Linked DNA regions of Homo sapiens. The protein of the gene in region 1 purifies or fractionates together with the protein of each later gene. This does not show direct contact. Each region holds a gene or a part of one and is shown in the gene's direction. Other genes may lie near its edges. The genes, in order: FKBP10, EFL1, DNAAF5, PPME1, SPIN1, SGSH and TTLL12.

Region 1 (3,896 bases):
CCTGGCCCTCCCGCCTTGTATTGCAGCTACTCCCGCAACCACACCTACAATACCTATATCGGGCAGGGTTACATCATCCCCGGGATGGACCAGGGGCTGCAGGGTGCCTGCATGGGGGAACGCCGGAGAATTACCATCCCCCCGCACCTCGCCTATGGGGAGAATGGAACTGGTAGGGGCGTTCCCCAGCCACCACCTCAGCTCCTCCTCCGAACTGCCCATTGTGTCTAGGCCACCCCCTCCCACAGTGGGATTCCAGGCACCGCTCGGCCCCTCTCATCACAAAAACATGCATGCAGCTTACATCTGGTCACCCCATCTGATTCCTGCCACACAGACTCCATCGGTTTCCTCCAGGGCAGCGCCCCACTTCGCCCCTTCCGCAGTGGAGAAGGGCAGCCAAGTTTGGGGAGGGAGGGTGGTTATGGAAAAACAGAACCAGCATACCCCCAGGACCCAGCTGTGCTGGGAGCCTCAGTGTCCTCACCTGTCAAGTGGGCAAGCCATGCTGATCCGCAGGGTAAGTTACTGGGAGTTTGCAAGACGGTGAGTGGAAAAGGGCTTTCTTACTGGAAAGCTGCCTTCCCCTGCCCCCTGCCCCAGTGAAAGTTTGTTAGAATTGACTCTGGACAAACATCCCGTCCCATCCTCCTTTGGATCCTCAGGGTCGGGAAGGGGTATCAGGTCTGGGGACCTCCATGGAGAGACCTCAAGTAGCCTCTCCTAGTGCTCTGAGCTGACCACACTCCCCCATTCTGGCCTCAGGAGACAAGATCCCTGGCTCTGCCGTGCTAATCTTCAACGTCCATGTCATTGACTTCCACAACCCTGCGGATGTGGTGGAAATCAGGACACTGTCCCGGCCATCTGAGACCTGCAATGAGACCACCAAGCTTGGGGACTTTGTTCGATACCATTACAACTGTTCTTTGCTGGACGGCACCCAGCTGTTCACCTCGTGGGTCCGGGGGGGGGCCGGGACTGGGCAGGTGGGTGGGCACAGGCATGGGGAGTCCTCCTCAGTGCACCCCCGACGCCTGCTCCTCCCTCTTGGTCCTCGAGCGCCAGGGGAGCATTCAACCTCTTGCTGCTTTCTGTAAGTCCCCATCTCGGAGCATGTCGAGGAGATGAAATTCTCTGCTTCGCAGGGGAAGGGAAGGTGAAGCCAACAGTTGGGGGAGAACTGCTCTTTCTATTTCACAGAGGGGAAACTGACGCAGGGAGCCATGAGCCCTCGAGGCCACACTTTAGGGGGCAGAGGCAAGATGAGAAGGGAACCCCACGTCTGCACAGCTGGGCCCCTGCACTCTGCTGCGTGGCCCAAGTCACCAGTGGGAGTAACTCCGGAACTGAGGGCTTGTTCTGGGCCCACCTCAGAGGGAGAGGGGTGTGCGCTGGCAGGGGACAGGGTGGCTGCTGACCTGGGCATCTGCTCTCCCCCAGGCATGACTACGGGGCCCCCCAGGAGGCGACTCTCGGGGCCAACAAGGTGATCGAAGGCCTGGACACGGGCCTGCAGGGCATGTGTGTGGGAGAGAGGCGGCAGCTCATCGTGCCCCCGCACCTGGCCCACGGGGAGAGTGGAGGTGAGGGGCTGAGACCATAATCTTTTTTTTTTTTTTTTTTTTTTTTTTTTTGAGATGGAGTCTGACTCTGTCACCCAGGCTGGAGTGCAGTGGTGTGCTCTCAGCTCACTGCAACCTCCACTTCCCAGGTTCAAGTGATTCTCCTGCCTCAGCCTCCCGAGTAGCTGGGATTACAGGCACCTGCCACCGTGCCCAGCTAATTTTTGTATTTTTAGTAGAGACAGGGTTTTGCCATGTTGGTCAGGCTGGTCTTGAACTCCTGACCTCAGGTGATCCACCCGCCTTGGCCTCCCAAAGTGCTGGGATTATAATCATGAGCCACTGCGCTCGGCCCGAGACCGTAATCTGACTGGCATCTGTCCCTTTTGCTCCTGCCCACTGTGGGTCTGATGACTGGTGGGAGGAGTCAGGAATGCCTTCAGGATGGCTCCTTAAACATCCCATGCCCCACTCTCCAGCCCAGCCCCAGGAGGGGAAACTGGCCTGTGGGCTGGGAAACAGTGAAGCCAGGCCCAGACCCCGGCCTGACTAGGACCCCTCCCTTCTCTCCTGCCCTCCCTCCAGCCCGGGGAGTCCCAGGCAGTGCTGTGCTGCTGTTTGAGGTGGAGCTGGTGTCCCGGGAGGATGGGCTGCCCACAGGCTACCTGTTTGTGTGGCACAAGGACCCTCCTGCCAACCTGTTTGAAGACATGGACCTCAACAAGGATGGCGAGGTCCCTCCGGAGGAGGTGGGTGAAGGTTCAGTCCTAATAGCCATGCCCACGCAATCCCCGCACCCAGGAAGCATCGAGGAAGAAGACGTCCCCCGTCCGGACTGCCCACCCGCCCTGGTGCTCCTGCCTGCGCTGAGTCCCACGCCTCAGGCTCCTTGTCCCTGCTTTTTCCTGGGCACACATGCAGGCTGTTCCCTACCTGAGACCAGTCACAGACTATCCCCATGCCACGCCTCCACCCCAGCCCCCACCAGGACCCCAGCACCAGTGCCTTTCCCAGCCCTTCCTGAGTTACAGGGTGCGGGGGAGCCTGGGAAAAAAGAAGAAAAAGAAAGCACTCACTGGCCTCCACCCGGGGCCCCTGCCCCTCCCAAGGCCATGACCCTCACTGCCCGCTCCCCCGGCTCTCCCCTGCCCCAGTTCTCCACCTTCATCAAGGCTCAAGTGAGTGAGGGCAAAGGACGCCTCATGCCTGGGCAGGACCCTGAGAAAACCATAGGAGACATGTTCCAGAACCAGGACCGCAACCAGGACGGCAAGATCACAGTCGACGAGCTCAAGCTGAAGTCAGATGAGGACGAGGAGCGGGTCCACGAGGAGCTCTGAGGGGCAGGGAGCCTGGCCAGGCCTGAGACACAGAGGCCCACTGCGAGGGGGACAGTGGCGGTGGGACTGACCTGCTGACAGTCACCCTCCCTCTGCTGGGATGAGGTCCAGGAGCCAACTAAAACAATGGCAGAGGAGACATCTCTGGTGTTCCCACCACCCTAGATGAAAATCCACAGCACAGACCTCTACCGTGTTTCTCTTCCATCCCTAAACCACTTCCTTAAAATGTTTGGATTTGCAAAGCCAATTTGGGGCCTGTGGAGCCTGGGGTTGGATAGGGCCATGGCTGGTCCCCCACCATACCTCCCCTCCACATCACTGACACAGCTGAGCTTGTTATCCATCTCCCCAAACTTTCTCTTTCTTTGTACTTCTTGTCATCCCCACTCCCAGCCCCTTTTCCTCTATGTGACAGCTCCCTAGGACCCCTCTGCCTTCCTCCCCAATCCTGACTGGCTCCTAGGGAAGGGGAAGGCTCCTGGAGGGCAGCCCTACCTCTCCCATGCCCTTTGCCCTCCTCCCTCGCCTCCAGTGGAGGCTGAGCTGACCCTGGGCTGCTGGAGGCCAGACTGGGCTGTAGTTAGCTTTTCATCCCTAAAGAAGGCTCCTTTCCCTAAGGAACCATAGAAGAGAGGAAGAAAACAAAGGGCATGTGTGAGGGAAGCTGCTTGGGTGGGTGTTAGGGCTATGAAATCTTGGATTTGGGGCTGAGGGGTGGGAGGGAGGGCAGAGCTCTGCACACTCAAAGGCTAAACTGGTGTCAGTCCTTTTTTCCTTTGTTCCAAATAAAAGATTAAACCAATGGCCTTAGGGTGTCTTTTGGACCAGGTTGAGGGGCAGGGGGGAATGGCTAGGGGATGAAGTGGGGATTGTGGGAGGCCTTTAGACCCAGAGATTGGGGAAAAAGTTAAACCAGGCTGTTTCCATGGCCTCATTAGCTCCAGACAGCATGTCCCCAGGTCAGGGGCTCCCCATCTGGAGGTTTCCT
Region 2 (4,665 bases), on another chromosome or scaffold:
TAGACTAACCAGAGGAGATTACGTTATCCACAACTAAGAACCTTGACCAATATATCATATAAGCTAATAGTATACAGTTATTTAAGAGAATGAGGGTGGTCTTTATGCATGATCATTGGAAGTTGGTGAGATTGTAAATAGTAAAAAACCGGATTGTAGAATAGTATGCTCAGAATATTCTCTTTTTTTGTTAAAAAAAAAAAAAAATCAATGCAGGCCAGGCGCAGTGGCTCACGCCTGTAATCCCAGCACTTTGGGAAGCCGAGGCAGGCAGATCATGAGGTCAGGAGATGGAGGCCAACATGGTGAAACCCCGTCTCTACTAAAAATACAAAAATTAGCTGGGTGTGGTCGCACGAGCCTGTAATCCCAGCTACTCAGAGAGGCTGAGGCAGGAGAATTGCTTGAACCCGGGAGGCGGAGATTGCAGTGAGCCGAGATTGCGCCACTGCACTCCAGCCTGGCAAGAGAGCCAGACTCTGTCTCAAAAAAAAAAAAAAAAAAAAATCAATGCATATGTAAAACAAGTCTTAAAGAACATTTGTTATCTGTGGAAGATAGAATTATGAAGGCGTTTTACAATATTATAGATATTTTTGCTTAGATTTTTATGATACTTCTTGTGTATTTATTGCATTGTCAAAAAATAAAAATAAACCCTTAAAAAGACAAAACTAACAACCACAGCCCAAAACAAACAAACAAGAAGTAAAATCACGCCATTCCAATGGTGGCCCTCAACATAATGAAGACTGAATTTCCTTACAGTTGAATGAGAAAGGAACTTGCGTTGAATATAAATTAGGAGAAAAGTAAAAATTTTCTCCTGCACACCAGTCTGAGGATTCATACACCCAAAGTTAATTTGTTGATATTTTAATCTATATATAATTATGAACTGTGTTTATTATGAGACTATTAAAAAAACTGCTTTCCATCAACATGTAGGTGTTTTCTTTGAATGGGATTACAAATACACCAGGGATTGACAACGTTCATATTTACTTAGCAAATAATGATCTAATCCCTGGGTCAATAGTGAAGCTGAGGAAGGAGAGGACTGTGTTTACAGGTGATGGAAGGTTGTTAGGCAGGACTCACAGTTGGATTCTAGATTTCAGGGTAGGGACTACTTACTGACTTTTCAGTCAGGCGGATCCCAAAGAACTGCTGCCTGGACGGGAATGGGAATATGGTCTGGCTGGGAGGACAGAAAGCTACAGATGAAAGAAAATGTGATATGGGTTGCAGACTCAGGGCCTTGAGCACTGTTCTTTCTCATCTTCGTGGTGGGGGATTATGGGGTGGAAATGCACTCTCCCAGTCGGATCACATCCCACTACTCACCAGCGTTATATCCCGTCGCGGCTTCACATATATTACTTACCTGGCCCGGGTGGCATTTTACTTTGCATCCTTGATTGGGAGTCTCAGGGGCTACGAACAAACGTTTTACCCCCGGGTAGCAGGCGGGTGAGGAGCGAGTATTCGCGGAGCGGGATAAGTGGGGATGTCGCTGCGCCCTCGTCCCTTCATCTCCGGGGGACGGCCACTCTCAGGGTTCCCGAGGAGCCGGCTCCGTGCACCTAGGCCCTAGGTCGGCTCCCAAGCCCGGGCCCGCCGCTACACCAGCCGTTTCTTACCCGCAGCTACAAATCTGACACAGACACCAGCTCCTCATACTCTTGGCTCCCATGCTTTCCTCCACCGCGCCTCAGCACTTGCAGCTTCTCCACTCCCACAGCGCCCGCCGTAGTCAAGGCAACAGAGGGATGCCCGGTGACAGACTCGGCGCCGGCTTCCGGCGGCGTCAGAGACGTGCGGGTGAAAGGTCGAGCGACAGCCGGCCCCGCCCCCTGGCGCGCGGGCGTGTCGGACCCGCAGAGCTCTCGGACTTTCGGAAGCTCTCGGTGTGGGTGCGACCCGAGAGAAGGAGCGGGGCTGGTGGGGCTGCTGCAGCCGGTGAGTGTGGGCTGGCGCTGGGGGCTGGAACCTCCTAGGCCAGCCTTTGGGCGGTGCCGGAGGAACCCGCTCGCTGCGGCTCTGAGGCGGGAACAGGGGCTGGGGCCGAGCGCGGGCTGGGAGCTTCGGTCCCCGGAGTGCCGCTTCCCGTCTGGGGCCGGGGCGGTCGCCTGTCTGTGTGGACCCAGGATCCTCAAAGAGAACGAATCTGGGACCCTGCAGAAATGAAGGGCATGTAGTGTAGAGGTTTTTCCTTTTTATTTAGAAAGGAATGAAAGACCGGCAGTGCACCTGCTTGGATAATAAGCACGTGACCCAAAACTTTGTTCGGGCTCCATGGGCAGGAATAAAGCTGGGTATTTGACCTCGCGCGAGGACGAGCGAGAATGTCAGAATGAGGGACTTGGGGGAAGACTGAAGAGAGAAAGGGAGCATCTTCTTCAGCATTTTCTCTCCCTCCTGGATGCAACCCTTCCTGTACGTGGTCATTGGCCTGGAGATGTTTACTGGAGTACTCCTCCACCGGCAGGGTTACTGGTGTCACTGTGCACCCAGTCCCCTCGAGCTGCGTGATTCATCGCAGCCTTTGGATCCGGAAGGATGAGCAAACTCCTTAAGTGTAATCGTGGTAGGATACTGACTTTAGTGCTCGAACTGGACTTAGGCCTTGGTGGTCTATCTCATCAATAAACATTCACTGGGTTCTTGGTTTAAGGGGTTTGAGAAGCTTGCCACCTCCCAGCGTTTATTATTATTTTTTTCTTTTGCCCCGACCTTTAGCCTCTGGGCCATTTGTAATACATATTTAATTTTTAGTCACAGGAAATAAGTAATCATGGTGCTCAACAGTTTGGATAAGATGATTCAACTCCAGAAAAACACTGCCAACATCAGGAATATTTGTGTTTTGGCTCATGTTGACCATGGTAAGAATACTTTTTAAATGGCTTATTTTGATAAATAAGGGAGATGTGTCTCTGTATGTCTCAGTGGAGTGAAGCTGTGGACAGCTGAGAGTGATGTTTGCTAAGAAGCAAGTCTTCTTTCTTTAAAAGTTTTGTGTGATGTTAGGGAAGCCTGCTTTGCTATAAAGCATTTGAAATGAACACGGTTACCTAGTGAGTAGCATTCTTCTATATATTATGTCATGTTGTTTTTTAAAGCAGAACTTGAATTTTTTGTTTTTGAAATGGCTTTACATATAAAATGTCTGTAGTCTTGACATAATGTCCTTAGAGTCTGTGGTATGTGATCCTATTTAATTCATCAGATATTTATCAAACGTCTGTTAAGTTCAAGATATTTTGCTTAGTATGTCTGAAGGTGGAGATTTATGAGTAGGGCACTAGCCCAGGGGAGGTTTTAACGGGGAGCAGAGCAAAATGAGACAAACAAGAGAAAAAAGTAGACTCTAAGGTTGGGAGAACTAGAGGATTAGGAAGTGAGGGGTTAGGAAAAGACCTCACAACATAATTAGTATTAGAGATGACACTTGAAGGGGGCTCAAGATGACAAATGGAGATAATCATTACAGGTGGGAATGTGTCATCAAGGGGAGAGGGAAATATATGTGGTCAAAGCCCAGTATATGGGAAAGGCAGAGATAGCTAACCCATGGTATGTTCTTCTGACAGATACTGCTGTAACTCCATAGCGCTCCTTCATGCTAAGCCTCCTCTTGATTTCAAACCTCTTGGTAGTTTAGGTAACCACAGCAAAGTGATTGGGATGGGCATATGAAATAAAACATATTTACCATCCTGAAGATGAAGGACCAGTTGGCGAGGTGAAGAAGCAGGCTGAGTCATATCTCATAGAGCTGCTCATGCCAGCTAGGAACTGGGATAAGAGTTGAGTGCTCCAGCTCTGGAGTTAGACAACCTAAGTTCAGATCTCCATTTTCAAGTTACATACCTTGCCTTTTTGAGCTTCAATATACAGCATCTGTAAAACAGGATGAAAACTATACCTGCTTTATAGGCTATAGGATTAAATGTGATAATAATGAGAGGGAAGGTAAACGCTTCACCATGAAAACGATCATTAATGTCTACTATTAGGCAGTAGGGAGCCTTTGGGGGAAAACATGGAGCAGGAATGATGTAATCAAATAAAACATGAGAAAGATTAGATTGGTAGACATGCTTAGGATGGATCCAAAGTCAGAGATTAGGTGGCTGTTGTCATTGATAGAAGAGCTGAAGTAATGTGAGTATGGAAACTGACAGAAAGACAGATAGTGGATCACTTACAAGTGAAGCCAGCTGTGAATGAGTTTTAGTACAAATCCAGTGAGTAACCCCTGCCTCCATGAGTTTTTATAATTTTACTGCTCACATTTTGAGAATGTGAAGGCTGATAAAAGGGTTTTTTTTTTCTTTATGAATTTATTCAAGTGGAAAGTTAGTGGGGTGTAACAAATTACTTTAAATGTATTGTTTAAAATTATGTTAAGCTGCTACTATCCTAAAAAACCTGGGATTCATCCATTCAACAAGTATTTTCTGAAGGTCTTCTATATGACAAGCGTTGTTCTGGTCCTAGGGATACTGCTGTGAATAAAGCAAAGTTCCTGCTTGCTTGATAATTATTTTCTAGGGAGGTATATACTTGGTGTACTTAGAATAAATTCAGCTTTACTGGGTAGCAGGAAAGTGATGCTCTAGGATTATATGCTAATACATATTTACATTGCAGACAGAT
Region 3 (3,896 bases), on another chromosome or scaffold:
GGATCTTCCTGGCGTGGCCGCCTCCCGTCGCGCGGCGTCAGAAACTCGGATCTTCGCGGCGTGGCCACCTCCCGACACGCGGCATCAGAAACTCGGATCTTCCTGGCGTGGCCGCCTCCCGTCACGCGGCGTCAGAAACTCGGCTCTTCGCGGCGTGGCCGCCTCCCGTCACGCGGCGTCAGAAACTCGCATCTTCCCGGCGTGGCCGCCTCCCCTCACGCGGCGTCAGAAACTCGCATCTTCCTGGTGTGGCCGCCTCCCGTCACGCGGCGTCAGAAACTCGGATCTTCCCGGCGTGGCCGCGTCCCGTCACGCGGCGTCAGAAACTCGCATCTTCCTGGTGTGGCCGCCTCCCGTCACGCGGCGTCAGAAACTCGGATCTTCCCGGCGTGGCCGCGTCCCGTTACGCAGCGTCAGAAACTCGATATTCCTGGCGTGGCCGCCTCCCGTCACGCAGCGTCAGAAACTCGATCTTCCTGGCGTGGCCGCCTCCCGTCACGCAGCGTCAGAAACTCGATCTTCCTGGCGTGGCCGCCTCCCGTCACGCAGCGTCAGAAACTCGATCTTCCTGGCGTGGCCGCCTCCCGTCACGCAGCGTCAGAAACTCGGTCTTCCTGCCATGGCCACCTCCCATCCGGCGGCATCAGAAACTCGGACCTTCCTGGCGTGGCCGCGTCCCCTCACACAACGTCAGAAACTCGATCTTCCTGGCGTGGCCACCTCCCCTCCGGCGGCATCAGAAACTCGGATCGTCCTGGGGTGGCTGCTCTTGTTACGCAACGTCAGAAACTCTCCTGCGTGGGCACCAGGCTCAGAAGAGTCCGGCTTGTGGTGGCAGGGCCAAGCTTTGGCTCATTGTGATTTTTTGTGTGAGAGCTTGACTTGTATCCTCGGCCACAAACCCTGTCGGTTGTTCTGGGAGTGAGGGACTTGGGCCGTTCACTTTCACGCCGTGCTCTGCCAGATCCCGCGTCCGCACAGCCAGGGTGGGTGCACTGCTCGTCCGTCCGCCATTCTTCCTGGGAAAAGCAGCTCTGCTGCACGACCCTGGTCCTCCGTGTGAAGCGGTGCACCTGGTGCCCACTCGCGGGTGTAAGCCGTGTGCGTGAGGGTGAGTGTGGCAGGTGAAGCCGTGTGCTCGAGGGTGAGTGTGGCAGGGGGCGTGGGCCTCAGCTGCTCCCGCATCTGCGCAGGTGTGAGCACAGTGACGGGCAGGCCGGGCATGCTCTGCGTGCGACCACATGCCTGGCTTTGACTCACAGACCCTCTGAAGGGTCCTGGGGACCCCGAGGGCCTTGGAGCCCATGTCGGGAGCCCCTGCCTTGAGTCGTGGAATCAGGTTGTCAGCCAGTGAGGGAGCCCCAGAGCCCATTGATCCACGGCGGGGCCCGTGGTCTCTCCAGGTCACGGAAAGAAGCTGCGAATTGGAGACCAATTGGAAATTGTTTAAAAGGAGGACAGCAGCTCACGTGCAGGCCTCGCTGGGACAGCCCATCCTGCCAGATCCACGCAACGCCCCCAGCTCCCCACACTCCCTGGCAAATCCCAGCCCTGCCTGCGCCCTCCCAGCTCTCCTGTCCTGCACTACACACCATCAACCCGAGTTCTGAGCTTCTCCTACTCTCAGCCTCAGCCTCACTCGTCCTCAGGACCTTGCTCTAGGCCGAGGAGACCAGTGCCCCTGTGCACCAGCTCAGCCTGCAGCCCCGGCCCTCTCGCCTCCCCAGGACTGCACAGGGCATCTCCCTTCCCCACTGCACGGTACAGGCCATTCTTTCTCCTGTCTTTAAAAAAACAAAACACAGATGCCCTGTACGCCGCCCCCACCTCCCCCACCTCCCCCACCGCACATCCGCCTGGCAGCAGGCTCCCTGGAAGCAGCCCGCCTTACCCCTCCTCGAGGCCCTGGGCCCATGGCAGGCATCTGCAGCCGTCCACCTGCCTGCACCTCTGAGCAGCGCCAGGCACAGCTGGCGGCCACGCACCCTCCTCTGGCTGCGGGACGCCCGTGCTCAGTCTCTTGGTCTTTCCCTCGCCCATGTGGGCCCCTCACTGCTCCTCTGCTGTGTCTGCACCGCTCCCTCAGAGCTCTTCTCCTGGCCTCAGCTCCACACACAAGTGCAGCTGCCTGGTGCCGAACCCTGGGCCGCTACCCCCCTCCCTGACTGCCTGCCGGGTTCCGCCACCCTCAGTGGCTCAGTGGCCATCTGTCCTCAAGACTGAAGGCGGAGACCTTGAGGTCCTCCTGGACCCCCTCTTAACTCCCAGCAGAATCTGATAGACTCCCCAGCCACTGCAGCAACCTCCCCATCCTCTTCCTGCCTCAGCTAGACACGCCCAACCCTTTCTGGCCCCCACCCCTGCAGCTCCCACTGCCCCCATCACACACACCACCACGAGCCCCTGACACGTTTGCCTTCCTGATTTTCATCATCGGCCACTGCTTCCCGATGAACCCTCCGTAAGCATGGGTTCATTTCCGGCTGTGTCGGTGATGCCTGGCCCGTGGGAGGTTTGCAGTCACTGCGGCAGGTGAATTGGCATCCGCAAATTGGATAAGAAAGTCGCCTGTTTTTCTGAGCCTATTTGCTCCTGTGAAACCTGTTTCTAAGCCCAAAAATGCCACCTGAAGACTCTGCAGGACATCATTTCATGGTCTGCCCACAACTGCCAGGAGGCGATTTTCAGTTCTTTGAATGCACGTTGTGACTGCCGTGCACCCACCCAGCAGCATCAGGTTCCTCATATTCACATAGTGACCATGCAGCATCAGGTCACTTGTCCACGTTGTGACTCAGGTCATTCGTATCCACATTCTGACTGCCGTCCACCCGTCCAGAGTGTCAGCTTACTTATATCCACGTTATGACTACTGTGCACCCATCCGCTGCATCAGGTCGCTCGTGTCCACACTGGGACTGCCGTGCACGTGGCCAGCAGCATCAGGTCACTTGTATCCACATTATGATCGCTGGACACCCATCCAGCAGGATCAGGTCATTCGTATCCACATTGTGACTACTGGGTCCCCATCCAGCAGCGTCAGGTCATTCGTCCCCAGATTGTGAGTCGGGTCACTCGTATCCACATTGTGACTACTGTGTCCCCATCCAGCAGCGTCAGGTCATTCGTCCCCACATTGTGAGTCGGATCACTCGTATCCGCATTGTGACTACTGTATGTCCACCCAGCAGCGTCAGGTTATTTGCAGATGCTTTTACAGATGCTTGAACTTCACTACAAAGCCAATTTGCACGAGAGGTAAGATTGGTTTCATGTTTGTTTCTGGCATGTTCAAGGTGTTTTTCTGTTTTACAGAGGTCCTCAAAGAGGGCAGCGGGCTGTTCCCAGATCTCCTGGTGAGGGAGACGGAGGCCGTCATCCACAAGCACCGCTCGGCCACCTACTGCGAGCAGCTCCTGCAGCATGTGCAGGCCGTGCCAGCCACACAGTGACCACGCTGGTTTCAGCCACGGCACACCCTTGTCCCCACCTGAGCCAGAGTTTGTGGCCTTTAAATCTCATAAACAAGGCACCTCTGTGCCAGCAGTGAGACTGTGACAGCAAGAATGTACTCCTCAGGACACCTGCCCACTCTTTCCCTGGAATAACAGCCTCTGAGTGGATTCTGCATGTTATGTGATTTGTTCTGTTCATCGAGAGGGCTCCCAAACATCTGCAGCTGATTTGAAATTAAAAGTAAGTCGCAGCCGCTCCTCCCGCAGCCACTTCAGCAGCATCTTAGATTTTAAGCCTCACGTGCGCAGCTGGTTCATGAACTATTGGCTGCATCCTGCTTAGGTGCCCACCAAGAAGGTTTTTACCTACTTAACAAAAAAGAAAGAAGCCAAAGTGATTAGAAAGAAATGAAATCTCTTTTTGGGTTCTGTCTACTG
Region 4 (3,896 bases), on another chromosome or scaffold:
GAACTGGGAAAGAAAACCATTTTTACAGTGTTGTCAGAAAGCATTCTTAGATCTTTTTCTCTTCTCTTTGCAGAGACGTTGGCAATGTGGTTGAAGCCATGTATGGGGACCTTCCTCCTCCAATTATGCTGATTGGACATAGCATGGGTGGTGCTATTGCAGTCCACACAGCATCATCCAACCTGGTACCAAGCCTCTTGGGTCTGTGCATGATTGATGTTGTAGAAGGTGAGTTTTCTTAGCACTGACCAAATCAGGATTTCACTTATAAGAGACATCCTTGGTAGATTATTACCTTGTCTTAGTTTATTGTTGATTTCATTCATCTTGAAATATGTCCCTCTGTCTTTATATCTTTTTTAAGTTTATACAAGATAACCATTTTTCCATGTCATCAAAAACTCTTCATTAACATCTTTTTATGGCTGCATAATATTTCAATCCTATGTATGTCCCATAATTGTATTTAATCATATAAAAAGAAGCTGCCATGTCTTTTCTGACCCAGCTTCAGAAGTCACACTGCTGCTTGTGAATACAAGTCATCCTCTTCAGTGTGAGGGCATGACATAAAGAAGTGAATACCCCAGAGGCAAAAATTATTGAGGGCCATCTTTATTTCTCTGCGAGCATCACTAAATTCTGCTGTCATCAAGAGCAGATATATAGTAGTTGACTCAGTAAGTGTAAATGCTCAGAATAAGTTAAATATGTGGTTACAGTTTTTGTTTAACATCCAGGTACAGCTATGGATGCACTTAATAGCATGCAGAATTTCTTACGGGGTCGTCCTAAAACCTTCAAGTCTCTGGAGAATGCTATTGAATGGAGGTAACCAACAAATCTTTGTCGCCTTTATTTAATTAATTTGTTTGTTTGTTTGCTTGCTTATTTATTTATTTAGGAGACAAGGCCTCACTCTGTCACCCAGGCTGGAGTGCAGTGGCATGATCCTAGCTCACTGCAACCTTGAACTCCTAGGTTCAAGCAATCCTCCCACCTCAGCCTCCCAAGTTGCTAAGACTACAGGTACACACCACCAAGCCTGGCTAATTTTTAAATTTTTTGTAGAAACGAGGTCTTGCTATGTTGCCCAGGCTGGCTTCAAGTAATCCTCCTGCTTTAGCCTGGCCTCAAGTAATCAAGTAATCAAATTCCTGGCCTCAAGTAATCCTCCCACTTTAGCCTCCCAAAGTGTTGGGGTTGTGGCGTGAGCCACAGTGCCCAGCCACTGTTGCCTTTATTCTAAATGTTAGATTGTAGCTTTTCTTCTTTTTTAGGTCAAGCACCAAGTTCAAGGAATAGAATTTCAGTTGCCACGCCTTATTGTAATAGCATATGAGGAAACATTATATAAACAGCAGAATTTTTTGAACATTTAAAAATATTTTAGATTTGGCTCAGTTGTCTGAAACCCATTGTTTTCCCAATACACTATAGTACCTCCTGGAATCTTAGTAATTATTGATCATCTGCTGTCTAGCTGTTTCTGCCTCTGAGGTAAGAGGTTAGACTAGGTGGTTTCTAAGGCATCATCCACCTCTGATGCTTCATGGTTTTAGATTTACTTTCTGTGTTTCAGATAAAATGGTGGAGAAATGGAAGATGGCTATAGGTTCCATTCCCTCAAATTTATTTGGATTTTGGGTAAATAAACTCAATGGGTAAATAGTTTTTATAAAAATCAGTGACAGAATTCCATTTAAGCAAAGGAATGAATTTATTCATTAATTCAGTTAATCATTTGATAAAGTATTTATTAAACACTTATTTTGTGCTAATGAGTGAAGATTCAGAGATGAATAAAACACTGTCCCTTCCCACAAGGAGATCAGTCTTTGGATAAATGTCTTCATCATCCTATCTTCCTTCCTATTCTTCTAACTCCATCTCCAGTCTCTTCTTCAGAACATTTTCTCTTAAGTTCTCCAAACCACCCAGATGACGCTTTCAGCAAAATTACAAGAGACCTTTAAGTCTCTATTATATTGCACTGTATACCCTTAAGTTTTCCAATACTCCCTTGAGGGATATGGCTCATATTGTTAATTTTCATTAATGTCTGTCTTAATGCCCTTCCTGCATCATAAGGGAAGAAGCTATTCTGTATTTCTTTTCTACTTTCATATAGCATATGGCATACTGCCCTAGCAGGCAGAATATATCTGTTAACTGAATCAGATATCAAGTGGAAATTTAGGACTTGGTAAATATATCCTAGGCGTTTTCCTAGGACAAATGGTCTTATGCAAGAATATGGCTTGTCAGAATGATGTTTGTGTTGGTGAAGTTTCTACCACTTCCTGTTCACTACTGTGATGCAGGATTCCTGTTCTCACAGAAATATCAAAGATCTATCTTGGGCAGATAGCATCAAGAATGTAGCTGCTGCCAGCTTGGCTTGTATCTCAGGTGCCCTGCCTGCTTCCGCAGTAACAACAAGTGAGAAAGTTATTCTAGACTTGGCTCAGTTGTCTAAAGCCCATCCAACTTTTATCCAAACTTTTTTTTTTTTTTTTTTTGAGACAGGGTGTCACTCTGTTGCCCAGGCTGTGGAGTCCAGTGGCATGATTACAGCTCTCACCGCAGCCTTGACCTTCTGGGCTCAAGCGATCCTCCTGCCTCAGCCACCCAAGTAGCTGGGACTACAGCTGTGCACCACGATGCCCAGCTAATTTTTGTTATTTGATTTTTTTTTTTTTTTTTTTTTTGTAGAGACAGGGTTTTATCATGTTGGCTCGACTGGTCTTGAACTCCTGAGCTCAAGCAGTCTGCCTGCCCGCCTCGGCCTCTCAGAGTCATGGGATAAATGGGTATGAGCCACTACGCCTGGCCCTTTTTCCGAACTCTAAAAATTTATTCAGTAAATTTTTTTTTCTAGTGCCTAAGATGTGTCAGTACCTGATCTAAGAACTGGGGGATGAATCAGGCTCAGTTCCTATCATCAAAAAACTGGGGATGCAAACAAGGAAACACATAAACATAACACAATGAAGGAAGCCAGGGGATATACCTAATGCAGCCTGGGTATCATGGTAGGCCTTCTCTTAAAGTAGTCTTGTTTCTTTTGCCAGATACAGGATAGAATAAGGGTTCTGTTTGTTAAATGTTAAGATGTTCTGGGTTTCATGAGAGTCATTGATCTTTCTGAACCTGAAAATTATTATACTATGAGGTATTTGGTAATTTTGTTTTTTATTCTGCTGGATATCTGAATCAAGTTTATGACTGATGGCCATTTTGGCTATTCTAGATTTTTTTTTATGTTGAAATATAAGGCCAATGATTTACTGCTTTTGCTCTCATAGGTTTCCTAATGAGAGGCAGCAGGGGTATAGTCATTAAGAACCTGGGCTTTAGGCCAGGTGTGGTGGTTCACACCTGTAATCCCAGTGCTTTGGGAGGCTGAGATAGGAATATTACTTGAGGCCAGGAGTTTGAGACCAGCCTGGGCAACATAGCGAGACCCTGTCTCTACAAAAAATATATATATTTTTTTAATTAGCTGGGTGTGGTAGCATGTGCCTATAGTCCCAGCTACTCAGGAGGCTGAGGTGGGAGGATCATTTGAGCCCAGAAGTTCAAGGTTATAGTGAGCTATGATCATGCCACTGCACTTCAGCCTGAACAACAGAGTGAGACCTTGTCTCGAAACAAAACAAAAAAGTTAGGGGAAACCTGGGCTTTGAGGTCAGACAGATACAAATTTGCATCTTGGTTACACCACTCTGGCTGTTCTGAGGAAAATCAAATAGAAGAAGTGGGGAATGAGGTGTGAAGTTGGTTAGGAGACTGTTATAGTAAAGGAGAGTAATAATGGTAAACATAGACGAGGATGGCAACAGAGGAAGAGAGTCATTTTTTAATGTATTTTCGAGGTAGAACTGACAGGACTG
Region 5 (3,896 bases), on another chromosome or scaffold:
TGAGACCTGCCGCCCTCATTTCTGCCTGAATCCTGCTTTCCTCACCCTGTGGTCCTGTCCTGGTCAGTAAGGATTGTGTACTCAGAAGGGCTTTGTCTTTCTGGAAGGAAGGTTTGCTGGGTTTTTGCACAGTCCCAAGGGGCTTAGGCAGACCTGGGTTTTCTGGCCTTACAGTCTTGCACTTAACCCTGTGAATCTCCTCCCAGTCTCCTTGGTTAGGTTCAGACCCCCTTGCTTAGTTTTTCACCCCCAGGAGAGAAGCTTCCCTTCTGCGGCGAGTACTCCTTATTGTCTCTTATGGCCTGTTCCCGTCTGACTTAGCTAAATATATGTTACCAGTCTAGAGTAAATTATTTCTATTTAGAAAATATATAATTTTAGTTTTAGCTGTTACAACCTACAATAAATTGTTTCTTTAAAACTTATTTGTGTTATATGTCAGATATTAATCACTTTTATTCATGGTGTACGAAATGAGAGCTTTATACCCATAAAACTGTGGGAAGGGAATTCCTTTCAGGTCTTTTTGTTCTTGGCGTATATCAGCATCTGTTATCTTGGTTTTGACCTTCAGCTTGCATCCAAGAAGCCAGGGTTTTAAGGTGAAATGAAGATTTTTTCCTGATATCAAGAGCCAGGTGTATTATTTATAAACATTCTGTGTGGATTTTTCAATTGCTAATAATAAGCCAGAAAAAAAGTAGTTTGATGTTTCAATAATTTTTAATATTACATTGTTATAAACTTCAGTTTTAAGATTATATGTTTTCTAGACAAGTAATGTTTCTATAGTGCATTGATATAAGCTAGTCTGGACTTCAGTTTAAGAGAAAATTGTCTAGTTTATTTTTATTAGTTAAGCTTGTACAGGCAGAATTATTTGGGCACGGGAATGGGTGAAATTGAATAGTTACACATTTCTTTTTAACTTGAAGTAGATATTATATAAAACTATATACCTGTGTGATTATTGATAACATGTATTTCACGGATCAGTCCTTCTTTAATTAACTTGGAAAATTTTGAGTTGATTGAATTAAAATAAACTCAGAAAGCTGATAACCTGATGCTTAATAGTAGGGCTTAAGTTGCTATTGACTAGTAGTTTTTTCTGCCTATACACAGTTGAGGTGCACAACAAGCTCCTATTACTAACATACCATGTTACACACTCACCACCACTGGTACAGGGGTAGAGGACAACCACTTTGAGTCACCTGAAGCAGGAATGTGGCAAACATGAGTTTGTACATATTTTGGGACCATCTGTAATGAGATCATGCTAGCCAGCGGTTATGTTAGATCTAGGCATGCATACTTTTGAGATAATACCTTATGTGTGTATATGTGTGAATACAGAAAACATCGGAGCAGTGTGGGTCCGAGCAAACCTGTTTCCCAGCCCCGGCGGAACATCGTAGGCTGCAGGATTCAGCATGGGTGGAAAGAGGGGAATGGCCCTGTTACCCAGTGGAAAGGAACCGTTCTGGACCAGGTGCCTGTAAATCCTTCTTTGTATCTTATAAAATACGATGGATTTGACTGTGTTTATGGACTAGAACTTAATAAAGATGAAAGAGTTTCTGCGCTTGAAGTCCTCCCTGATAGAGTTGGTAAGTTCTTTTTATAATTTGTGCATTATATACTTTAAAAATGATATTGAACTGGATGCTTTTTTTATTTTACATTATTAATACTTCACTTTTATTGGAACACAAGCACCCTTCTTGATAAACATTATATTAAATCACCGAAAACCACAAAAATGGATCCTAAGCAGTTCAAGGAACTGTGTGAGGGATATAGAGATGTGTATTTTCCCCCCAAGAAGTTTGCCACGTAATAATTTATAATACGGTTATTTCTAACATTTTTGCTCACTGTTCTCTGGACTCTGATGGGTAAGGTTATCAGTAGCTGAAATATCCTATATGTTAATCTCATCTCATCAGATACAAAAGATAAGAGAATGCTGTGCCTTTAGAATCTTTCTGTGAAAGTGTATCTTTGTGTACAACGTAAATGATAATTGTACTTTGAGCCAAAATTTAAACAACCAAAACGTGGTCTTTATTATACACAGAGCTTGATTGAACAATGTTTGTGGAAATGAATGGCTCTTTTTAAATGTCATACAGTGCCAGTTTTGCCCTGCAAGTGTTCCTTAAGGCATAAGGTCTAAGGTAAATAATAATTACTGATTTTATTAGTAGGGTGGGATACACCCAAACTAATATTACTTTTTTTTGAAGTATTTATTTTGAAATATTTTCTTATTACAGTGATGCTGCTCTTGTTTAAAATATTGGTTTATACTTTTAGAATTGTCTTTATAAGTCTATACCATTAAATAATAAAGTTTCAGCAGATCTAGACTTGGGAGGTAGGAATTTTGGGATCAAATTGTCACAGGAAGAAATTAGTTCAGTCTCCTCGCTTTGTTTTTCTTCAGACTGTGCCATTGTGTCCCTGGGATATAACGAGTTTCCTTAGGAAGTTAATTCTGCCTTAGTAGCAAGTTATTTTGTTTTACTCTTCTCTTTAGATATCAAATGCTAAATCCTTGCTCATCTGTATAAATATGGTTCAGTTTTCAAAGAAATCTTTCTTTAAATTTAAATCTTTATTATTACTCCTAAAAGTAATATTAAGTCTTTGTTATTTTCAACATTCTCATCTATTCTTAAGTGTGACTGATCACCTGCTCTTCCTCTTGATGCACATCCTACATTTCTTCTTGATCATGGCATTAATCCATTTCCCATATAAGAAACTTTAACATATTAAAAATCTTAACAGCAGAATTTTAGTCTCTGCCCCTTCTGAGACGACAGCTAGCTCACTTGAAGGTTCCTGCATATTGCTGCATGACCTGTGGTTGTTGGTCCTTTTGTCATCGAAGGATAGAAACTGTACAAGTATCTCTGGTGATGGGACTAAGGGTTCCATGTTGTTTGTAGTTTGGTATTATCTCTGTTTCCAACAATAGTAATTTTGTAAACATTCAAGCAATATAAAAAGAAACCCAAGAGCTTTTCTGTAAATCAGCAATATATATGCCTAATTCAGCTAATAGTTGTTATTAATTTTAGTATTCGTGGTATTAGGTTGGTGCAAAAGTAATTGCGGTTTTTGACATTGAAATTGAAAGTAATGGCCAAAACAGCAGTTACTTTGGCATCAACCTACTTTAGTCTAAAAAATTACTTGCTCTTCACTTACGTTTTACGTCGGAAGCAATTGCTTCAGGCAGTACATTAGAGTATAATTAAAATTATGTTTTTCTTAAGCTAAAGTTAGAGAAAAAAGTCAGTCAGCCAGAATGCATGTGATGTCACAGAGCAGTGGTTCCCAAAGCAAGGCCTGGGGACCCTTGGGTTCTCTGAAGCCCATTCAGGAGATTTGCAAGGTCAGAAATATTTTCATTTTGTTAAGCTGTAATTCGCGCTTTTCACTCTCTCTTTTTCTCAATTACACAGTGGAGTTTCCCACTATCTATTTGGAAGATTTGCATAACTTAGTGAACACAATATTTTCTTTATGAGCAGTGCATGGTACCACATCATGCATTGGTGAAAGAGCTATTCAAAGTGCAAGACTAACTACTTTTTTTTTAATTGTAAAAAAACATAGCATAAAATTTACTGTCCTAACCATTTTTAAGTGTACAGTTCAGTAGTGTGTTAAGTACATTCGCATTGTTGAAACAGATCTCCAGAACTACTTCATCTTACAAATCTGAAACTCTCTACCTATTAAACAAAACAACCTACCTTTCCTCCCATTCCCAGCCCCTGGCAACCACCATTCTACACTCTGTCTCTATGAATTTGACTATTCTAGATATCTCATAGAAGTGGAATCACACAGTATTTGTTTTGTGAGTAACTTATTTC
Region 6 (4,447 bases), about 38 Mb from region 1:
GGCCCAGGGGCTGGAAACCTGGAATCGCTGATGGTGTCTGGGATTGATACTGTGTATTCTGCACTGTTTCTGAGATATGGCTGGCAGCAGGGTCAGACGCCTCACCTGGGGCGGGAGTCCAGCCACTTCAGCATAGGCCAGCGCCTGGGGAATGGCAGTGAGGCCAACTGAGAGGCCGGCGACGAAATCCATCTTCAGCCACTGCAGGGAGTAGCTGGGCAGCCACGCCAGGATGGGCAGCCTCCTCTGCAGGGCCGCAGGGGAGCAGCAGCAGGCGCTCGGGGCCATCCCGGGGCCAGAGGACCTGGCCTGACCCAGCGCCGTCACCGAAGAAGGCATCTCTACGGTGGGGCTGGGGGGTGCAGGTGACACAGACCAGCAGTCAGAGCGTGGCCTTTGAAGAACCCGGCAACACTGGTCAGGGTCGGCGGGTGTCAGGAGAGGTCACTATGGGTCTCCCCTCCCCAGGGGGGCGAACGGCTCTAAGAGGAAGCCAACAATGTGTGCAAGATGGGGACTGGGCCAAGACTGGAAGGCCCACCCCGTCCCTCATCACCCTCTCTCCCTGAATCCCCCCCGTGCAAATCCTGGGTGCCTTCTGTCCCTCCATCCTCAACTCTCCCAGATAAGAAACTGATAAGCGATTCCTCATTGAGAAGTCTGAAGACTAATTAGGCTCAACACTTCTGGCCCCTGGAGAACCGACTTCCTTTGCCTTTTTTTCCGTCTCCCCAGGGAATTTAACGGGGAGCAGCGCAGAGAGAAGCTGGGCCCGCGGGCGCACCGTAGGCTGGCGGGGGGTGCGGGTGGCAGCCAGGAGATCCAGCGGGGCTCCGAGGTTTTCCAACTGCGCACCAAGGCGGGCTCCACCCGCTACGGTGGACTGCGGCGCTCGAGGGAGAGTGGGGGGGTCCTCCGCTCCTGAGGCCACGCCTCGCTCAGCCCCCACCTGTGGCTTTCACAGCCCTGGAGTTCTAGTTGCTTCTGGGAGGACATCAGAGGCGCCCGGTTAATTCAGGTGCGCAGCATCTTCCAGGGCCCCGGCGCCCGCGCGCAGAGCCGCCACCCTCACCCCCAGCCCCCCACGCCCCCGGCCGCTCCGCTCCGGGCAAAATCCACTCCCCGGCCCCCGGCCCCGCCCACAAGGCCGCTGGCTCCGGATCCTGGGGTCTCCGGAGGAGACCCTGCGCCACCTGACCGTCCGCGGTCCCTTGGCCCCGAGCAAGGCCGAGGGCCGCGGGGACCCGGGTAGGGACGCGGCGGGGGAGTGGTCCCCACGGGAGGCCCCCGCACTTCAGGACTCCGCGCTGGCCCCCGCGTCGGCTGCCCCCGGCGACCCCGGCCACTGTCCGCTCCCCCTGCCCCTGGTCCCCGCTCGCCGCCCTCGCGGGCCACGGACTCACCCACTCGGCGATGCAGCTTGGGGTCTCCTGGCGTCGCCGCAGCTGGGTCCGCAGGAATCGCCGGGGACAGGCCGGGGCGGGGTCTGGCGCGCACGTGACCGGGGTCGGGGCAGGGGGCGGGGCCGAGCGGGAGACCAGAGAGCCGGAGCCGGATCCCGATCCCGAGTCCGAGCCGCCGCCGCCATGAGCTGCCCCGTGCCCGCCTGCTGCGCGCTGCTGCTAGTCCTGGGGCTCTGCCGGGCGCGTCCCCGGAACGCACTGCTGCTCCTCGGTGAGTGCCGGCGCCGCCCCCCCACGCCCACCTGCGGTGGCCCGGGGAAGTGGCCACTGGCCTCCTCCCCACCCGTGGTCAATGCTGACCCTAGTGTGCCCTGCCCTTGTATCCCCCGCTGCCATTCCCTCTCGTCCTCCTCTCTGTGCCGCCCCCAGACTCTTCACGGGTGTCTCCCCAGAGAGGGCAGCAAAGGCTGGAGGAGTGAGCCCCAGCATCCAGCACCCCTACACTTACCTCGTGCCGCCTGTCCCACCCTCCTCTGACCCTGCCCAGCCAGGGCTCAGGGGTCCACGGATCTCAAATCCCTCTTGGGAGGGGATCCCAGAGGAGGGGCTGGTGCTCCGGTCCCCAGAGACTGCAGACAGGGTGCCCTCCTGGCTCTCATTTCCGACCCCAGAGCCTGTGTCTCAGCTGTCTTTTCCCTTATCCCAAGGGCACAGCCCTCCACCACCCACCCACCACCGTCTCCCCCAACCCCAGTCCCTCTCAGAAACCCCAGGTTCCTCCAGAGCAAGCACCGTGCTGCTCACAAGACTTCCGGTTTAGGTAATCAAGGCTCTGGCTCATGACAAGTGACAAGGCCAAACCCAAGGCCTGCGATTCTTTCCCCTTCTGAGGTCTGGCGCCCTGCCAGTTGCCCTCTTTCTGATTAATTTTGTGGTCTCTGGGCGGGGGTTCGGCTCACTGTAACATAAACAGCTCTCCTGCCAACTCCTCGCCTCCCAGAAACACAGCAGAGAATCTGCATGGACCCTCACCTGCGGATCAGAATTCCTACAGGAGGCTGTCAGAGTCCAGGCTATGCGGCCCCTGGGCTAGGGCCTTTCTTAGCACGGACTGCCATGGATCGGCTTAAACAGAAATGTATTTCTCACAGTTCTGTGGGCTGAAAATCCAAGGTCAGGGTGCCAGCTTGGTTGGGTTCCAGTGAGGGTCCACTTTCGGCTTACAGGTGGTCACCCTCTCACTGTTTCCTCACATGACAAGCGGATGGGGGTGGTCTCACTTCCTTTTCCTTTCTTTTTCCTTTCTTTCCTTTTTTTTTTTTTTTTTTTTTTTTTGTGAGACAGGGTCTCACTCTGTCACCCAGGCTGGAGCACAGTAGCACAATCACAGCTCACTGCAGCCTCAATCTCCCAGGCTCAAGCGATCCTCCTGCCTCAGCCTCCCAAGTAGCTGGGACCTCAAGTGCACATCACCATGCCTGGCTAATTTTTGTATTTTTTGTAGAGACAAGGTCTCACTGTGTTGCCCAGACTGGTCTCGAACTCCTGGGCTCAAGCAATCTTCCTGCCTTGGCCTCCCGGGTGCTGGGCTTACGGGCATGAAACACTGCACCCGGCCCTCTCTTTCTTTTCCTTTAAGTCCACAGTCCTGTCAGATCAGGATCTCATCCTTATGATTCATTTACCCTTAATTAAGGACCCTGTCTCCAGATACAGTGATGTTGACGTTAGGGCTTCAGCATATGAATTCTGGGAGGACACAGTTCAGACCATAGCAGGCCCACAGCCAAGTGCCGAGACACTCTGGGTTTGGAGAAGGGCAGCTTTCTTCCTGGCCTGCGGGTACGGAGCACAGCCCATCCCGCTCTCCCTCCAGGTTTACGTGGCTGCCATGTGCTCACACCTGTGGGTACTGTGGGGTGGAGGATGGAAGCCCAACTGGAAGGTGCCCAGCCTCCTCTGTCCATCCATGGACCACATTGCCTCTGAGGGAGCTGGGGAAAGTGTTGGTCTGGGGGTTCCCACCAGCCTCTCCTGTGGTGCCCCCAGTGTCCTCTACTCCAGAGCAGGGGGAAGAAGCTTGGTGTGGTTGTAGGAGTTCAGCGGCCTGTCCCTGTTTCCTGCTGCCCAGTGTGTGGCCCTGGGCACTGCACCTCACCTTTCTGGGCCTCAGCTGCTTTGTGTAGGATGAAAGGGTTGAAATAGACAACCTGCAAGGTCACTAGGCCTTTGAGATGGCATCAGTGAGAAGCAGCGGTGGGACGCACACACATAGAGCTTTAGACGCGCCCTGGGCGAGGCTCTCCTGCCCTCTGCCCCATGCGGTTTCCGCTGAGCCCAGAATTGCCCAGCAGTTCTGTGGCCATGCGCTCAGCCGCTGTCTGCCTAAATGCCTAGCCGGCTAACACGCCCACCCAGGTAGCATGCCTGCTGGGGTATCATCAAGCTTGTTGGGTCATCATGCCTGCATGAGTATCTTGCCCACTTGGGTACCATGCCTGCCTGCTAACATGCCTATGCAGGTACCAGGCTTGCCTGGGTACCATGCCCATCTGCTTATACCCACCAGCTATCAGTCCAGCCTGTGTACCATGCCCACCTGCCAACATACCCACCGGGTATCATGCCTGCTTAGGGTATCATCAAGCTTATTGTGGTATGATGCCTGCTTATCATGCCCACTTGGATACCATGCCTGCCTGCTAACATACCAACCACGCATCATCCCTGCTGGATACCAGTCTACCTGCTAACATACCCACTGGTATCAGGCCTGCCTGGGTACCATGCCTACCTGCTTATACCCACCATCTATCAGTCCAGCCTCCATACCATGCTCACCTGCCAACATACCCACCATCTATCAATCAGTCCAGCCTCCATACCATGCTCACCTGCCAACATACCCACTGGGTATCAGGCCTGCCTGGGCACCCTGCCTGCTTGCTGATATACCCACCAGGTATTGTGCCTACTAGGTACCATGCCTTCTTGCTAACATACCCAGTGGGTATGGGGTCTTCTGGATACATGCCTGCCTGCTA
Region 7 (4,409 bases), on another chromosome or scaffold:
GGCTTGTTGCTAACTGTGGCGGCGATTGGTCATCTGAGGTCTTCACTAATGATAAATCATGGCGCGTGAACATGCGTGGAGGCACCTGGCCATGCCCATGTCCGAGGAGTCCTCTAGGAGGACTTGGAGAAAGGGCCCTGCCATGCACTGGTGACTATACCAGCACACACTCCCCACAGGGGCCGAGTGGTCCTGTTGCTTCTGTCTGTCTTATCCTTGCCTGTGTTGAAGCCTACTCCCTAGGACCCAGACCCCCCAGCAGGGCCCCAGGACATTGTTGGAAGTCGCCCTCAGGTTCTGAGCCCCTCCCTTCTGTACTGTGGGGGTCATCCCGGGAGTCCTCTCCTGGAGCTCTGTGCCTGGGGAGGTACGTCCAGCATGGCATGGATGGCGGGCTTCCATAGGGGCCTTTCCTGGCTTGTTCTTTTCTGGGAGAAACCTGAGCCGACTGCCACCTTCCTCGGGTGTGTTTTGGGTAAAGTCTTGAGGCCAGAAAGATCTTGCATCCCTCAAGCACTCTTGAGCTGGTGCTGAACCAGGGCACAGGCAGGTCCCGCGGCGGAGTCTTGAGCTCTGCCTCCTTCGCACTGTACTGAGCTGAGTGTGAGGATGGTGCCAGCCCAGGCCCTGCAGTTTCTGGAGCCCTCGATGTTCATTGTCTCGCGTGAGCCTCACAGCTGCGTGGCAAAGTCAGTTTACTGGGCAGAGCACATTTTCCCATTTCACAGAGGAGGAAACAGGCTCAGAGAAGTTAATCCGTTGGTCCAGAGTCACACAGTAAGACCTGGAGCCCAGACTCCATCTCCTGCCTCCTGTTTGGACCCTGAGGGTTCGGGGTTGGCTGCCTGCTCCTGGAACCCCCACCCAGTGTCAGAAGCTCCTGGTCCAGGCAGTAGCAGGCTGCCTGCTCCCGGCCCAGCGGAGGCCTGTACAGAGCGTGATGGGCCCTGTGTCTGTTGCAGGTGCACTGTGAAGAGTTCATCCCCGAGTTTGAGAAGCAATACCCAGAATTTCCCTGGACGGACGTCCAGGTAATTCCTGTCCTGCACACCATCGCAGGCCGGTGGGGCGGGTCCCGGGCTGGGGGCCTGCAGGAGCTGCTCCCTTCCCTCTCTGCTGGCATGGGCTGGGAGGGACCTTTGTCCCCTGCAGTTGGTCATTCTCCCCAGAGGCTGGCAAGACAGCGTGGGCTCCCCTCCCTTCCACCCTGGGCATTTGTGGGTGCTCCTGAGAGGGAGGGAGCTGGAGGGGCATGTGGGGCACCCCTGGGACAGCCAGAGGGTGGCGGCACTGCCTGACCCTAGATTCCCAGTCATATGGAGACGTTGGCTGGGCCTCCATGTCCAGCAGCGGCATTCTGGGTGCTGTGTTGAGCTCCTTGGGGCAGTGGGGAGCAACGGGGTCTGCGGCAGGAGATGGGCAGATTTGCAGAAGGTGGGCGTCAGGAGTAAGAGGGCAGGTGCTGGGCGGAGGTGGCCATGGTGAGGTCTAGAGACGTGAAGATGTGGGAGGGGGTGACTTGGGCCACGTGGGGCCCGGGACTTGGGCAGGGGCAGCAGACCCCCTCTTGAGAGGCTGTTCTGAGCAGGCCTCGTAACTCAGGCTCCCCGGTCCCCAGGCTGAGATCTTCCGGGCCTTCACGGAGCTGTTCCAGGTGGCCTGTGCCAAGCCACCACCCCTGGGCCTCTGCGACTACCCCTCATCCCGGGCCATGTATGCCGTCGACCTCATGCTGAAGTGGGACAACGGCCCAGATGGTAAGAGGGGCTCCCCATCTCCTGATCCAAACCAGCAGGCGCCCCCTCCGCCAGCCAGCCACAGCCTGGAGAAGGCAGGCAGCTGCCCCAGGCTGTCCTCTGGCTTGAATCAGCCAGGAATCTGGGTTGGGGAAAGCCCTGGCTTGGCCCACAGGAAGTGCCTGCGGTGCAGAGTCTGGAGGGGAAAGGCTGCGGGTTGGGCCTCTGAGTCGGGGGAGAGCTCACAGGACAGGAGACCCGTGTGAAAGGCACCCTGACCCCAACCCACACCACCCTGGCTGGCCTTCCCTGTGCCAGACCCCCACACAGTACACTGCTGCTGCATATCTACTTTTTTTTTTTTTTACTAAACTGAACATCCAAGCTTAAAGGGCCAGGCTGTCATCCCTAGGGCTGGAGGCAGCCCTGGCCTCTCCTAGAGAAGCAGATGTCAGGCCAGGCCTCCCCAGCAAAGTCAAGAGACCCAAGTTCTAGGCCCGGCCTTGTCCTGCTCATCCCCTGGGAATCAGGGCCCAGGTTCATGGCCTCCCAGCCTTTGCTGGATCCCCAGGCCACTGTCCCTGCAGAGTGGAGGCCAACGAGCCTTCACACTCTGCTGCGCTCTTTGCCATCAGGAAGGCGGGTGATGCAGCCGCAGATCCTGGAGGTGAACTTCAACCCCGACTGTGAGCGAGCCTGCAGGTACCACCCCACCTTCTTCAACGACGTCTTCAGCACCTTGTTTCTGGACCAGCCCGGTGGCTGCCACGTTACCTGCCTTGTCTAGGCACTCGCTGTCCCCAAAACCTGTGCTTGGGGCAGGATTCCAACCTCAGTTCTCTGAGCTGCTTCTGCAAAGGCCCCCATGTCCCTCCCCACACCGGCCCTGGGCATAGCCTCAGCCCCAGGCCTCTGTCCTGCCGAGCCATCCTCCCGGCGCCACACTCCGGGAGCACAGCATCCTCCTCTCACCTGTGGGTCAGAGCAGGACAGTGATGGTGTCCCCAGGGCTGAGCACCACCCCACGCCCTGCCCTCACCCCTCACCACCATCTGTGCACTGATGAGTCTCCAGTTTAGCCAAGGGCTTTGTTCCTGGCATGGAGAATTTGTTCCTGGCTGCTGTGTTTCCAGGGGGTGCTGGGGGAAGGGTTCCGTGGAGCGAGACAAGGTGTCCTCGGGAGCAGGGTTCCACCGGGAAGCGTTTGGGAGCCCTGTATCACACGGGGCAGGCGGGTTTCTCTTCCGGGGTCTCTGCTCTTATGCATCAGGACGACCCCGGGACGGCTGTGGGGCCCCACACTGCACCCACAGGGCTCTATGCGACAGGGGCCCAGGAACAGCCTGAGGCCACCACCCAGCAAGCCCGCCTTATCACCCATTCCAGCTCACCCAGAACCTTCACCAGCAAACCTCCTGCTGAGGTCCTGGCAGGAGGCCACCGTCTTGTTACCGTTTCCTTTTCGTTTGCTGAGGGTCACAGACCCCAACAGGGAAATCAGTATCTGTCTTCCCAGTGGTTGCCCTGCTCGCCGGGCACTCCACGGGGTCCCGCCCTTGTGTGAGATGGGCCAGGATCCTTCGGCAAGGGGCGCCTGGGGCTGGGGCTGATTGTGGGCGGTGGAGCGCCAGACAGAAAAGGATTCCAATGAGAACTTCAGGTTAAAGTCAGATGCCACCTACCAGGGTCTACAGTCAAAATGTTGGCTTTTTCTTATTTTTTAATGTATGGGAGAAAAATGTAAAATTCCAGTTCTTTTCTAATTGTGTTTCTGAAATTAGGAGTCAGCTGCCAGCGTTTTTGTGTGGCTGCAGTGTGCCTGGGCCCAGCTCACGGGCAGTGGGTGGACCTAACTGCCCAGGCAGGCGAGAGCTACTTCCAGAGCCTTCCAGTGCATGGGAGGGCAGGGCTAGGTGTAGCGGTGTCTCCTCTTTGAAATTAAGAACTATCTTTCTTGTAGCAAAGCTGCACCTGATGATGCTGCCTCTCCTCTCTGTGTTGTCTGGGCCCTTGTTTACAAGCACGCGTTACCCTTCCTGAGGGGAGCCATGCTCTAGCCCCTGGAGGGCCTGTTGCAGGGGCAGGGCGGGCCCGTCGCCTTTGGCAGCTCCTGGAGAGCTGTGGACATGCAGTCCCCCTCAGTTCGTGCTGCAATAAAGGCCATCTTCTCTTATTTCTGCCCTCCTTTCTCTTTGGACCCTGGAGCCACAGGCTCAGCCTGGCCTGTCGCCCCGGCTGTCACTGAAAAGCCCCGGATACCAAGAAGTCACCCACAAAAAGTGGGAGAAGAAATAAGATGGCCTTTATATCGCAGGCCTCCACCCCACAGTCTGATTTCCATGTGCTGGATCTGTTTCCAAGCCGGCCGGGAGCCTCGGTCCTCGAGTGGCCCCACAGCTCTAGTGGCCCTGGAGATAGCAGCCTCCCCACACTTGCCTCCTTGTCCTGGGGTGGGGACGGTGAGAAACCCTGGCTGCTGGGGCGTCTGCAGGGCTCCTCGGGCCACTGCTGAGCAGGTGCATGGACACCGTCAGTGGGTGGAAGCAGCGCCACATGGTGACCAAGGAGGTTAAGACTCAGAAGGCAGGCCAGGCATGGTGGCTCACGCCTATAATCCCAGCATTTTGGGAGGCCGAGGCAGGACAGAGAACAGGTCACACAAAGTCAAGAGAT

Evidence for each region.
Region 2: the proteins of FKBP10 (region 1) and EFL1 fractionate together in Homo sapiens (co-fractionation; one large-scale study listed by BioGRID). This does not show direct contact.
Region 3: the proteins of FKBP10 (region 1) and DNAAF5 fractionate together in Homo sapiens (co-fractionation; one large-scale study listed by BioGRID). This does not show direct contact.
Region 4: the proteins of FKBP10 (region 1) and PPME1 fractionate together in Homo sapiens (co-fractionation; one large-scale study listed by BioGRID). This does not show direct contact.
Region 5: the proteins of FKBP10 (region 1) and SPIN1 fractionate together in Homo sapiens (co-fractionation; one large-scale study listed by BioGRID). This does not show direct contact.
Region 6: the proteins of FKBP10 (region 1) and SGSH fractionate together in Homo sapiens (co-fractionation; one large-scale study listed by BioGRID). This does not show direct contact.
Region 7: the proteins of FKBP10 (region 1) and TTLL12 fractionate together in Homo sapiens (co-fractionation; one large-scale study listed by BioGRID). This does not show direct contact.

What each region holds. Positions count from the first base shown.
Region 1 is NC_000017.11:41,819,504-41,823,399, forward strand, and holds the end of FKBP10 (peptidyl-prolyl cis-trans isomerase FKBP10 precursor), read left to right. Parts: intron 1-26; coding exon 27-172; intron 173-765; coding exon 766-958; intron 959-1,203; coding exon of another isoform or gene 1,204-1,260; intron 1,261-1,443; coding exon 1,444-1,586; intron 1,587-2,150; coding exon 2,151-2,314; intron 2,315-2,719; coding exon 2,720-2,905; 3' UTR 2,906-3,710; downstream 3,711-3,896. UniProt on the Homo sapiens protein: PPIases accelerate the folding of proteins during protein synthesis.
Region 2 is NC_000015.10:82,259,911-82,264,575, reverse strand, and holds the start of EFL1 (elongation factor-like GTPase 1), read left to right. Parts: upstream 1-1,841; 5' UTR 1,842-1,962; intron 1,963-2,047; exon of another isoform or gene 2,048-2,439; intron 2,440-2,778; 5' UTR 2,779-2,797; coding exon 2,798-2,888; intron 2,889-4,665. Other genes in the region: SAXO2 (stabilizer of axonemal microtubules 2), read right to left, coding at 1,644-1,696. UniProt on the Homo sapiens protein: GTPase involved in the biogenesis of the 60S ribosomal subunit and translational activation of ribosomes.
Region 3 is NC_000007.14:782,199-786,094, forward strand, and holds part of DNAAF5 (dynein axonemal assembly factor 5), read left to right. Parts: intron 1-3,318; coding exon 3,319-3,455; 3' UTR 3,456-3,896. UniProt on the Homo sapiens protein: Cytoplasmic protein involved in the delivery of the dynein machinery to the motile cilium.
Region 4 is NC_000011.10:74,230,172-74,234,067, forward strand, and holds part of PPME1 (protein phosphatase methylesterase 1), read left to right. Parts: intron 1-73; coding exon 74-228; intron 229-740; coding exon 741-831; intron 832-3,896. UniProt on the Homo sapiens protein: Demethylates proteins that have been reversibly carboxymethylated. Demethylates PPP2CB (in vitro) and PPP2CA. Binding to PPP2CA displaces the manganese ion and inactivates the enzyme.
Region 5 is NC_000009.12:88,461,137-88,465,032, forward strand, and holds part of SPIN1 (spindlin-1), read left to right. Parts: intron 1-1,359; coding exon 1,360-1,613; intron 1,614-3,896. UniProt on the Homo sapiens protein: Chromatin reader that specifically recognizes and binds histone H3 both trimethylated at 'Lys-4' and 'Lys-9' (H3K4me3K9me3) and is involved in piRNA-mediated retrotransposon silencing during spermatogenesis.
Region 6 is NC_000017.11:80,217,453-80,221,899, reverse strand, and holds the start of SGSH (N-sulphoglucosamine sulphohydrolase isoform 1 precursor), read left to right. Parts: upstream 1-1,566; 5' UTR 1,567-1,586; coding exon 1,587-1,674; intron 1,675-4,447. Other genes in the region: SLC26A11 (sodium-independent sulfate anion transporter), read right to left, coding at 106-339. UniProt on the Homo sapiens protein: Catalyzes a step in lysosomal heparan sulfate degradation.
Region 7 is NC_000022.11:43,166,122-43,170,530, reverse strand, and holds the end of TTLL12 (tubulin--tyrosine ligase-like protein 12), read left to right. Parts: intron 1-962; coding exon 963-1,031; intron 1,032-1,618; coding exon 1,619-1,757; intron 1,758-2,371; coding exon 2,372-2,523; 3' UTR 2,524-3,909; downstream 3,910-4,409. UniProt on the Homo sapiens protein: Negatively regulates post-translational modifications of tubulin, including detyrosination of the C-terminus and polyglutamylation of glutamate residues. Also, indirectly promotes histone H4 trimethylation at 'Lys-20' (H4K20me3).